Linked DNA regions of Homo sapiens: region 2 is linked to region 1. Evidence: fine-mapped expression QTL. A gene starts in region 1. The other region holds a variant in brackets. All regions are shown on one strand. Distances are between the middles of the regions.

What was found. PIP is the estimated chance that this variant, and not a neighbour inherited with it, causes the effect. A credible set is the group of variants that fine-mapping cannot tell apart.
Region 2: its variant is the best candidate, but not a certain one, in a credible set for the expression of NPR3 in fibroblasts (GTEx, PIP 0.88).

The regions. Positions count from the first base shown.
Region 1 is chr5:32,708,578-32,713,951 of GRCh38, reverse strand. NPR3 (natriuretic peptide receptor 3) reads right to left here and starts at 2,631. Exons shown (of 8, transcript NM_001204375.2): 1 at 1,407-2,631. The coding sequence starts at 2,175. RefSeq lists a silencer at 1,375-1,669 and an enhancer at 1,545-2,270.
Region 2 is chr5:32,826,232-32,831,605 of GRCh38, reverse strand. No RefSeq gene overlaps it. Among named protein-coding and RNA genes, the nearest start is that of NPR3, 120 kb to the right of the region's middle. The variant A/G (reference allele first, on the strand shown) is at 2,866.

The sequences.
Region 1 (5,374 bases):
CATAATCGGCAAAGCCTGCGCCCCGCCTGCTTGGCTGGTAGGAATTCGGCACAGACAGCCTGGAGTTCCAGAGCTCAAAATTTGGCCATGCATTCCCACTGTCAAACACCTCTCGCCTCTTTGCTCTAAAGGGTGAGTCCGAGGTGGCCAAGATGGCAAGGCGGTGACAGCAGCGCCATTATCGATGGCTTCTCTGTCCACTCTCACCTGTTCCTGGGGCCTTCGGCCTCAGGTTGCGCTGTCCCCTACGACCAGCGCCCAGGTGCTCGGCCATGCCAAGTTGTGGACTAGCCCGGCGCCTGGCTCAACTCCGCTCCCCTTCGGTCTCATCCGCGTGGCACTGGGGTCTCGGGGAGCTTTGCCGGGATTGCACCACTCACATTCCAGGCGCGTGAGCGCCAAGGGGGAGCAGAGACGGGATTCCCTCATCGCAGTGCTCCTAATCCCTGACTAGAGGGAGGAGGGATCGGCGCTATACCGGCATCTCAGTCCGCCTTCCCTCAGATTCTACCCTACCGTAAAATGGGCCACACTGGCGATTACACGTCCGCGTCCCCCCGCTCCCCGAAGCCATAGCCACCATCCTCAGCCTCGAGCTCTTTGTCCAGTTTGGGTTTTATTCCAACACCCAAAGACCCATGGAGAAAACTTGGGGGACAGGTGGAAAGAAGGTTCAGCGCTCGTTTCTTCAAAAGGCACTCCCGCAAAGCTTAGCTCTGGGCGCATTAGAAACTGCGTTGCAGAACACTCTGGGAGAAGTGAGTGTCGCCAGAATTCAGACACACAGGGGCATTTTTGGTGGAAACCACAGAAGCTCGTTTATAAGGGGCTGGAAGGGAAATGAAAGGAATGAGAAGAGTGAGTCAACAAGCCTTTAAAAGAAACCTGGGGTCTGTGGAAACAACAGTCAGAGAAACCCCAAGAGCGGGCGAGCTAAGTGGCGACGCCTCGCTGCGAGGCGTCCGCGGACGCTTCCGCACTAAGTGGGGGCGCACGCTGGCAAAGGACTGGGGAACAAGTTCTTTCCGCCTCGGATGCTTCAGACCCTGGATGGAGCCAGGCACTGGGAGTGCGCCCCCTAATCACCAGCCCGGCGCTGGCAAAGTGGAAACTGGGAAGAAAAAACATCGAAGTGTTTGACAGCACCTGTTGGACCTGGGCACGCAGGAGCTACAGACGCCCTCTCCTCCAACCCCTTCACCTCCCTGGGACCCTCTACGTACACCGCGATGGGCGGTCGTCAAAGGTTGTCGCAGCCACACGGCGCATACCTGAACGAGTGCCCGCGCGCACCCGACCTCAGCGCCGCAGTGGGGAGTGGGGTCTGCAGAGTGGACGAGTGTGCAGGGAGAGCCGCGGAGAGCGGTTGGGTTAGGGCCCGGGGCCCGGGACGCGCCCCTGCTCACCTCTCTCACTGGCCTGGATATTGCGCACGATGTCTTCCAGATCCAAGTCTTTGGTCTCGTCGAAACTGTAGATGGACGTGTGCAAACCCTCCTCCTGGAAGACCTCGTGGACCCCCTCGAGGGTGAAGTAGCAGTTCCGCTCCAGCTTGTCGTCGCTGTAGACCAGTGCAGCGCGGCTCCAGTGGTGGTGGCGGAACAGGGCGAGCATCATCTCGCCCATCTTGGCGTAGGCGGGCGCCACGCGCGTGAGGTGCGAGTACTCAGAGTCCTTGTGCTGGAAGCCAGCGGCCAGCGCCCCAGCCGACAGCATGGGCAGGTCCCAGTGCGATGCAAGCCGGGCCACTGGCGCTGCTGCATACTCGCACACTGGCCCCAGGATAAGGTCTGGCTTGGCGCCCCGCGCCGCCGCCACGCGGTCCACCAAGCTGAAGAGCGCACGGTTCCCACAGTCTGAATCCTCGTAAGCCACCTGGAAGCGAGTGCCCGGCGGCAGAAGCCGCCTCCCAGTCCCGTTGCCCTCCACGCTGCGCAGAGCATACTCGATGGCCGGCCGCACCCGGGTGAGTGAAAACAAGTACGAGTCATCCTGGGGCAGTAACACCAGCACCTCGATCTTCTGTGGCGGCAGCGCCTCTCTCTCCTGGCGTCCGCCGCCTATGCCCGCGCCACCGCCGCCGCCGCCAACGCCACCGCCACCGGTGCCGCCGGCCAGCAACGCCCAGCCGAGTAGTACGCACGGGGAGAAAGTGAGCACCAGCAGAGACGGCATCGTGCCGCAAGAAAGAGCTTGCCCTCGCCGCCGCCGACTCGCCCTCTGCCCCCCACCCACCCTTCCTCTTTCCTCCCCACTCTTCTCTCCAAGGTCCCTGCGCCCCCTTGGGCGCTTTAACAAAATAGAATACCCCCTTCACTAATGCGCCAAAAGATAGAGAGGAAGCGTCCTTCTCTGCAATGTCACTAGTTTTTCTTAAAAAAAAAAGAAAAAGAAAAAGAAAAAGTTCACCGGGTGTAAACCTGTGCGTCTGTAATATACATATATATATACTTGTATATATTCGCCCTCCGTTTATACATATACTATTTTGCTTAGAGGTGGCTTCTTATTTGGGCGTTGCTAAGGTTGCTTTTGAAAGCGTTTTTGTAGAAGAAAAAAAAAGTTAGACTTGTCCAAGTGTTTGTAATTGACGGTGCATCTCCCTCGCATTTGATCTCATTGATTCGCGCCGGTTCCTGGATCCATAGCCCGCGTTTAAATAGCGTGGCAGCGGCTGAGCGTGTTACCACACATGGCGCGCCGAGGCCGGGCTTGTGTTTCCAGCGGGTGGGGTGGGTGGGGGTGGGGAGATGTGGGGGCTGGGCTGGGGGAGTCTCTCATTAACATTCTTACATCAGGGCTCCTCCCTGCACCCCTTCACTACCCATCGCGCCCCTGTCCCTAACCACCACTCCCCGCAGGCCCTCTGCCTTTTCCTTAAAGCTGAAATCGCCCACGTCTGCACCGGCAAGAGCCCCCACCACGCCGCGTGCCTGTGCGATCACCGCCTCTCCCTTTCCACGCTCTCCAGCTCCTGGCTTCAAAAAAGGAAACGTGCTTTAAAGTAGAGAAATGCGCGCGCGCACGCACACATACACACACACACACACACACACATATACACACACACACCGTGCAAAAAAAAAAAAAAACCAGGACTGGGGGAAAGGGATGGTTCTAGAAATTGTGGTTTCGGTGCAAAAATCCTTAGGTGCCGCTTGCTCTCACCTTTCTCGTTCTGGCCACATTCCCTCCTGAAGCACCGACGCGGGGCGAGCACCTGACCTTCCTGGTCCCTCGGCGCAAGGTCAGGGAACAAGGACCAAGGTCCCAGTGCAGATGGCTCCATCGCGGACCTGGTGTGCCCGGCTGGCCCGGGCGTCACCTACACCCCGCCTTCCTCAGCCCCGCGCCAGCCCCCTCCCCCTGGGCCACGCAGGTTTGCGCTGGAATCGCAGCGGTGCCGAGGTCACAGTGTCCCAGCTCACGGACCCTCTGTCAGCGCACTGAGAGCAGGAAAGTGAAACTTGTTGCTCCCAAAGGCGAGGGAATGGTTCAACTTCTGGAGGTGTCACAAAGCTTGGAAAGCATCCCCAAAGCGTCCTCGGGGCTTTGTTTGCTAAACCAGGTACCTAAATAAAGGGACTGTCTTTCCCAAAACGTTCCCGGTAGGTCCCCCGGGTACGACACACGCTCCCCTCCAACCTGAGTGCTCAAAGATCCAACCGCTCCTTCTCTGGAGCGCTCGAGGCACTGTGCTGGGGTTCCGCGACTCCAAGAAAGGTCCTGCCTCGGAGACCCAGTCCTCCCACTGGCCATAGCCACAGCAGCGGTGGAGACCGGAGGGAAGCGGCTCTGGAGAAGTCCGTGACCAGAGGAGCATCGCGGGAGTCCGCCGCGCGGCGGGGCGGGTCAAAATGGAACTGGACCTTCTGTGCCTACTGCAGCCAAGTCATTTGCAATGTGAACGGGCTACACTGGGCGGGAGAATTCTGACAATTAAGTCCCGCACATTTAAATACATTGAAAATGTGTTAAAATGGTCTTTCATTTGACTAGGCGTCCGTGTCCACAAATTTCTTTTAGTCTCAGACCGACGCCCTCTTTCGGCAGAAACTTGCACCCGACTCAACCCGGGTGCCGCAGTCCCAGACGCTGCGTTTTTTACTCCGAGGCCTTTAACGCGCTCTGGTTCTCACTTGCGACGGTGAAAAGGCAAACTGGGGTTTCTGGGGATATGGCAACTTCTGGCGTCAGCGCTCGCCTCCCTTAACAGCACTCTCCTTATCGCTCTTTCTGGAACCGTCAATGTGATTATGGGTAATGTTTCAGCTTCTGGGTCATTTATATTCAGATTATGCACTGTGATCCCGAAATCTTCACTGTTAAGTAGGAGCTTCTAATTCCTGCGAGAATTTCCATTTATTTAATTAGAGCCACTAACCAGGAGCAAAAGAGACATCTGTATAAAATTTAATTCCACAAACAGGGTAATCCACACACACTGGAAATTGAGATTTAGTGCTCCACAGCAATTAAATCTTTCCTGAATTTGCAGAAGGGCAGGCGTTTATGGCAGCACAGATTAAAAAAAAAAAAAAAGAAAAAGAACAACAACAAAACAAGAACTAAATCATGAATTCCAAGGGTCTTAATGGATTTCGAAACTGGTTGCCAGGCACTGTGCTGGGGTTCCGAGACTCCAAGAAAGGTCCTGCCTCGGAGACCCAGTCCTACCACTGGCCACAGTGGTAGGAACCAGTGTTTCCTATTACTCTGCGGTATGCCCTGTGTCTGCGGAACACCAGCCAATGGCGATATGATTCTGCCGCGTGTGGTGTGGGTTTATGCGGAGAGTCTGGGGTTTCAGTGGCACCGGTGTGAACGCCTGTCCCATCCCAGATGCTACCTAGCCTCGCCTGCAGTTCAACAGCAGGGCAGTGCGCTTAAGTAAGGGTGAGTGCCCGTAGCCTCTCCGCAGCTTTTGGACAAGAGCTCTCGACTTGCAGTTTGTCACACTCAAGAGCAGCAACAAGACCAAGCTGCGGAAGGGAAGAGACCCCAAACCAAGCAGCGGAACGAATTAAAAAAAAAAAAAAAGCCAGTGTTATGCTTTTGCTGAAGCTCAAAACACCCCTTAAGAATTCCAGTGAGCAACAATTAGGGTTTTTAAAAAACCTTTTCAAATGAAAAGAGTCACAAGATTATGGGAAGACCCACCAAGTAATGTAAGTGTATGGATTTCAAAGTTACGGGTTTGTTTACTTTCCATCAAGTTAGAATTTTTGCAACCAACTGAAAGTTTGTGTAAATAAGTAGTTCTAAATCTTCAGGCCAGAAGACTTAAGTCACCCAGCCTGACACCCCTTACTCTCTAGATGAATTAAGGCCCAAACAGTATAAGTGATATACTTAAATACCTCTTCATCCCCTG
Region 2 (5,374 bases), 120 kb before region 1:
CCTTGAGCCTATCTTGGCATTTTTAGTCATCCTCTGGACTTAGTGAAATTGAGTTCTCCATGCCTCTCTTCAGAGCTCAGGCTTTCTGGCATATAGCTGTTTCTCTGGTACTACCATTTTCATGTACATTTGCCCCAAAATGGAATAATCATTGAGAACAGTTTTGAGCGTTCTTCAGCTCCTTTGCCTCATGCCCTAGTCTCCAGGGCTCAGCGTGTCTTTGGGAACAGGGTTATGCTTTGCAATACTACTACTGGCTCTTACTTCTCTTCCTCAAGATTGATTCTTCGAACAGTGACCTTATTTAATTCAAACAAGCCATGTTGGTTCTCCTGACTTCAGCAAATGGAAAAGTCCAGTAGGAAGTACACATTTGCTTTTATGGATGACAGATATGCATTACTGATTACTCTAATCCTCAAAGGTACTTAGAAACACTGATCAAGTCTTCATCTCCTGTAACAGTCCTGGGGAAATCACAAGCAAAAAGCATTTGCTTAGGTAAGTAGGAAGCAATTGTTATTACTTCATTTTGTTTTGCTTCCTGAGAGGACTTGAAAAACTGAGAGACTCCCACTCATCTGATATGGGACATAGAAAAAATAAAAATATTCTTAGAACCCACCACAAGGCAAAAGCTAGTCTAGCCAACACCATCTTGATTCTTTAATAAGACCAACTCATTCAGATCAAAGTCAAATTGTACTTTTCCAGAGGGTAAACTTAAGACAATATTTTTCAAACTTTTGTTTGGGCTACAACTGACAGTAAAAATATATTTTACAACATGACATGTATGATGTTGCACACACACATGTTTACCTGAAATACGTTTTATGAAACATAACTTACTCTTGCTATATGTTGTAAACTCAATATTTTTGTCTGTTCTATTTCATTCCATTCAATTGTATTTTGTTATTTAAAAAATGCTAGTTGTGAAACACAAAATTGATTTCTTAAGACACAACTCACCATGTGAAAAACACTCTTGAGGGTGGGGGATACAGAAGTGAATCCTTCTCACAAATTCTCTAAGTCCTCCCTTTTTTATTGAAGATGGCTAAAATTTACCATTGAGGATGTCTTTGCTGTGGTTAAAAAAAGTTATCTTTTATTAAAATGTAAGTGAACCCTGAATGAGTAACAGATTACACCTGGCCCATCATTTATACCTCTATGAAGTGGAGAAGATCACATTGCACCTCACATCACAAATATCACCTCATATACAGTAAAGAAAGAAAGTCAGGTTGGATGAGGGAAGGGCTGGAAATGAGAACAGGAAGCTCTGAGGCAGGAGCAAGTAAAGGGTTCCTGAGGAAGAGGATAGGTTGCCTCAGTGATTCTGGGGCTTTGCCCCGTCCCCATACATAGGTGGGGAGAACCCAGGCTGAAGGCATCCTCAGTCCCCCCAGGGGTCCCTTGCTGCCCTCTCCAATCCTGCACATATCTGGGGCAGGAATGGAAATCAAAGCATGGAAATGGAAGGGACACCACCAGAGCACAGTGAGGTCTGCAGGGCTGCAACCAGGAGCAGGAGGCTGTACCTGGGCCACCTCTTCCCCTTTACTGCACTCCCTCACTCAGGGAAGGCTCTTCCCCTTCTTCTCCACCTTGATCACGTTTTCCTAAGAAGGTCCCAGCTCTGCCAGCCCTTCCAACAGCACCATCCTAATATGGTTTGGCTGTGTCCCCACACAAATCTCATCTTGAGTTGTAGCCCATAATTCCCAGGAGCTGTGGGAGGGACCCAGTGGGAGATAATTTAATCATGGGGGCAGTTTCCCCCATACTGTTCTCATGGTAGTGAATAAGTTTCATGAGATCTGATGGTTTTATTAGCGGTTTCCCTAATAAAAAATTCTGTGGCTCTGAGGCTCCTATATGCTAATTCATAAATTCATAAAGAATACAAGCTGCTGATGACAGCTACTATGTCCCCAGACCTTCTCCTCTCCAGTCTAAATGTCCCTGGTTCTTTGAGGATTTCCCCAAGATAGCAGCATTAGCAATAATATAGAATGGTTTGAATTATCCCACCAGTCTAGTTGCTTTCCTCACAACAACCTCCATTTGGTCTATCATCTCCTCTAAACATGACCCCCAAAACAAAAGCCCAACCCCAGGTGCACTACCTGATGCACCCTAATCTTTATGTACACGGATGTATCCTCCACTGTACCAGTGTCTCTGCAAAACACAGCCTGCATCTGCCTTCATATTAACAATGACTACCCACTCATACTTGGAGCTTATGGAGTTATTTATCCAGAAATTCCTTTTACTTCTTGAAAATTTCAAACAACCCTCTCTCTTCCTCCCTCCCTGTAAGCATGTTTAAATGGCTATCTTGAGAACTGCCACTTTTTGACATGATTCTGTCTCCCCGGCTGCAAAGAGAGCCCTTACCAGGTTTCCCATCAGAATTCTTCCTCAGGTCTTGTCTGGCTGCATCTGAAAGAGCCAGCCTCTTCCAAGTCCACTAGCAAAAGTTAGAAGGGATGATCTTCAGAAGCGTTTAAGGGCCATAATCCTGCCCTGTGCAGAAAGATAGACTGTAGCAAGAGAGAATAAAACACAGAAGAGAGAATGCCACCCAAAGAGAGGCCAGCCCAGTCAAGAAACGGAGAGAACCCAGGGCTTTTGTGTCCCTTGCCCATTTATCCCTGAAACCTAGCAGCCTTCCCTGCCCTTCCCTCAGTCTGGTTGTTCTTGGATTCTGAGAGTCAATAAATTCCCTTTTTGCCCTTTTGCCTAATCCCAGTTGGATTTTTGTAAGTGGCAACCAAAAAATTCCTGACTAATACAACCACTAATTTTTTCTTCCTGAGTATTGCCGTGCTGTTCCTAAACCAAATATTC[A/G]CATCCTGTACTTACATGTTTTTGAACCCAAAGGCAAGATTTCACATTTATTGCTGTGAAATATCATCTTGTTTTCTTTGATTCGTAATTCTAGTATAGCTGGTGGCAAATTTGCACACACTACTGTCAACTGCACTAAGAAAATGTGGCTTTTGTCTATTTTTTTTTAACAGAGTTAGTCACCCTCATAAGCTTCATAAGTCCTTGCTGGTAACAGACACACACACACACACACACACACACACACACATACTTTTCTGTAACAATATTACATTCAAAAAAGACTTTTAAGCTGGAAGAAACAGTTTATTTCTTCTGAGTTGTCAGTCCTTGGGAGCACTGCAGCCCCAGTTCTCCAAAATATCAACTGGCTGAAGGAGGGCATGATGAGACCCCTTATCTGTGGCAAAGGAGCTCCAAATCTAACCATCATCCTCTGATCCCCACTGGCCTACATACCATGGAGCAATTTGTCTGGTCTTGTCCCTGGGGTGCAGAGGGCCCCATCTGGGCCTTGGGGCATCCTACTGGCATTCACAGCTGGAGTCATTGGCCTTGGCCGTTTGCCTCTGGTCACAAACTCACCATATGCTATTGTCAAATAAAAGCAAATCCAGAGTTAGTAAGAAGAGACTTCATTCAAAATAATTATTGCAAAAGGAGTAAAGGCACTATTGCAATAGGGAAGGTGTCCTATGGTAACAGGGAGAGCACTGTGATCACACATTCTACAAGTATCTTAAGAGTTAGTTTTCAAAGGGAATGCTTCCAGTTTTTGCCCATTCAGTATGATATTGGCTGTGGGTTTGTCATAGATAGCTCTTATTATTTTGAAATACGTCCCATCAATACCTAATTTATTGAGAGTTTTTAGCATGAAGGGTTGTTGAATTTTGTCAAAGGCTTTTTCTGCATCTATTGAGATAATCATGTGGTTTTTGTCTTTGGCTCTGTTTATATGCTGGATTACATTTATTGATTTGCGTATATTGAACCAGCCTTGCATCCCAGGGATGAAGCCCACTTGATCATGGTGGATAAGCTTTTTGATGTGCTGCTGGATTCGGTTTGCCAGTATTTTATTGAGGATTTTTGCATCAATGTTCATCAAGGATATTGGTCTAAAATTCTCTTTTTTGGTTGTGTCTCTGCCCGGCTTTGGTATCAGAATGATGCTGGCCTCATAAAATGAGTTAGGGAGGATTCCCTCTTTTTCTATTGATTGGAATAGTTTCAGAAGGAATGGTACCAGCTCCTCCTTGTACCTCTGGTAGAATTCGGCTGTGAATCCATCTGGTCCTGGACTCTTTTTGGTTGGTAAACTATTGATTATTGCCACAATTTCAGAGCCTGTTATTGGTCTATTCAGAGATTCAACTTCTTCCTGGTTTAGTCTTGGGAGAGTGTATGTGTCGAGGAATGTATCCATTTCTTCTAGATTTTCTAGTTTATTTGCGTAGAGGTGTTTGTAGTATTCTCTGATGGTAGTTTGTATTTCTGTGGGATCGGTGGTGATATCCCCTTTATCATTTTTTATTGTGTCTATTTGATTCTTCTCTCTTTTTTTCTTTATTAGTCTTGCTAGCGGTCTATCAATTTTGTTGATCCTTTCAAAAAACCAGCTCCTGGATTCATTGATTTTTTGAAGGGTTTTTTGTGTCTCTATTTCCTTCAGTTCTGCTCTGATTTTAGTTATTTCTTGCCTTCTGCTAGCTTTTGAATGTGTTTGCTCTTGCTTTTCTAGTTCTTTTAATTGTGATGTTAGGGTGTCAATTTTGGATCTTTCCTGCTTTCTCTTGTAGGCATTTAGTGCTATAAATTTCCCTCTACACACTGCTTTGAATGCGTCCCAGAGATTCTGGTATGTGGTGTCTTTGTTCTCGTTGGTTTCAAAGAACATCTTTATTTCTGCCTTCATTTCGTTATGTACCCAGTAGTCATTCAGGAGCAGGTTGTTCAGTTTCCATGGAGTTGAGTGGCTTTGAGTGAGATTCTTAATCCTGAGTTCTAGTTTGATTGCACTGTGGTCTGAGAGATAGTTTGTTATAATTTCTGTTCTTTTACATTTGCTGAGGAGAGCTTTACTTCCAACTATGTGGTCAATTTTGGAATAGGTGTGGTGTGGTGCTGAAAAAAATGTATACTCTGTTGATTTGGGGTGGAGAGTTCTGTAGATGTCTATTAGGTCTGCTTGGTGCAGAGCTGAGTTCAATTCCTGGGTATCCTTGTTGACTTTCTGTCTCGTTGATCTGTCTAATGTTGACAGTGGGGTGTTAAAGTCTCCCATTATTAATGTGTGGGCGTCTAAGTCTCTTTGTAGGTCACTCAGGACTTGCTTTATGAATCTGGGTGCTCCTGTATTGGGTGCATAAATATTTAGGATAGTTAGCTCCTCTTGTTGAATTGATCCCTTTACCATTATGTAATGGCCTTCTTTGTCTCTTTTGATCTTTGTTGGTTTAAAGTCTGTTTTATCAGAGACTAGGATTGCAACCCCTGCCTTTTTTTG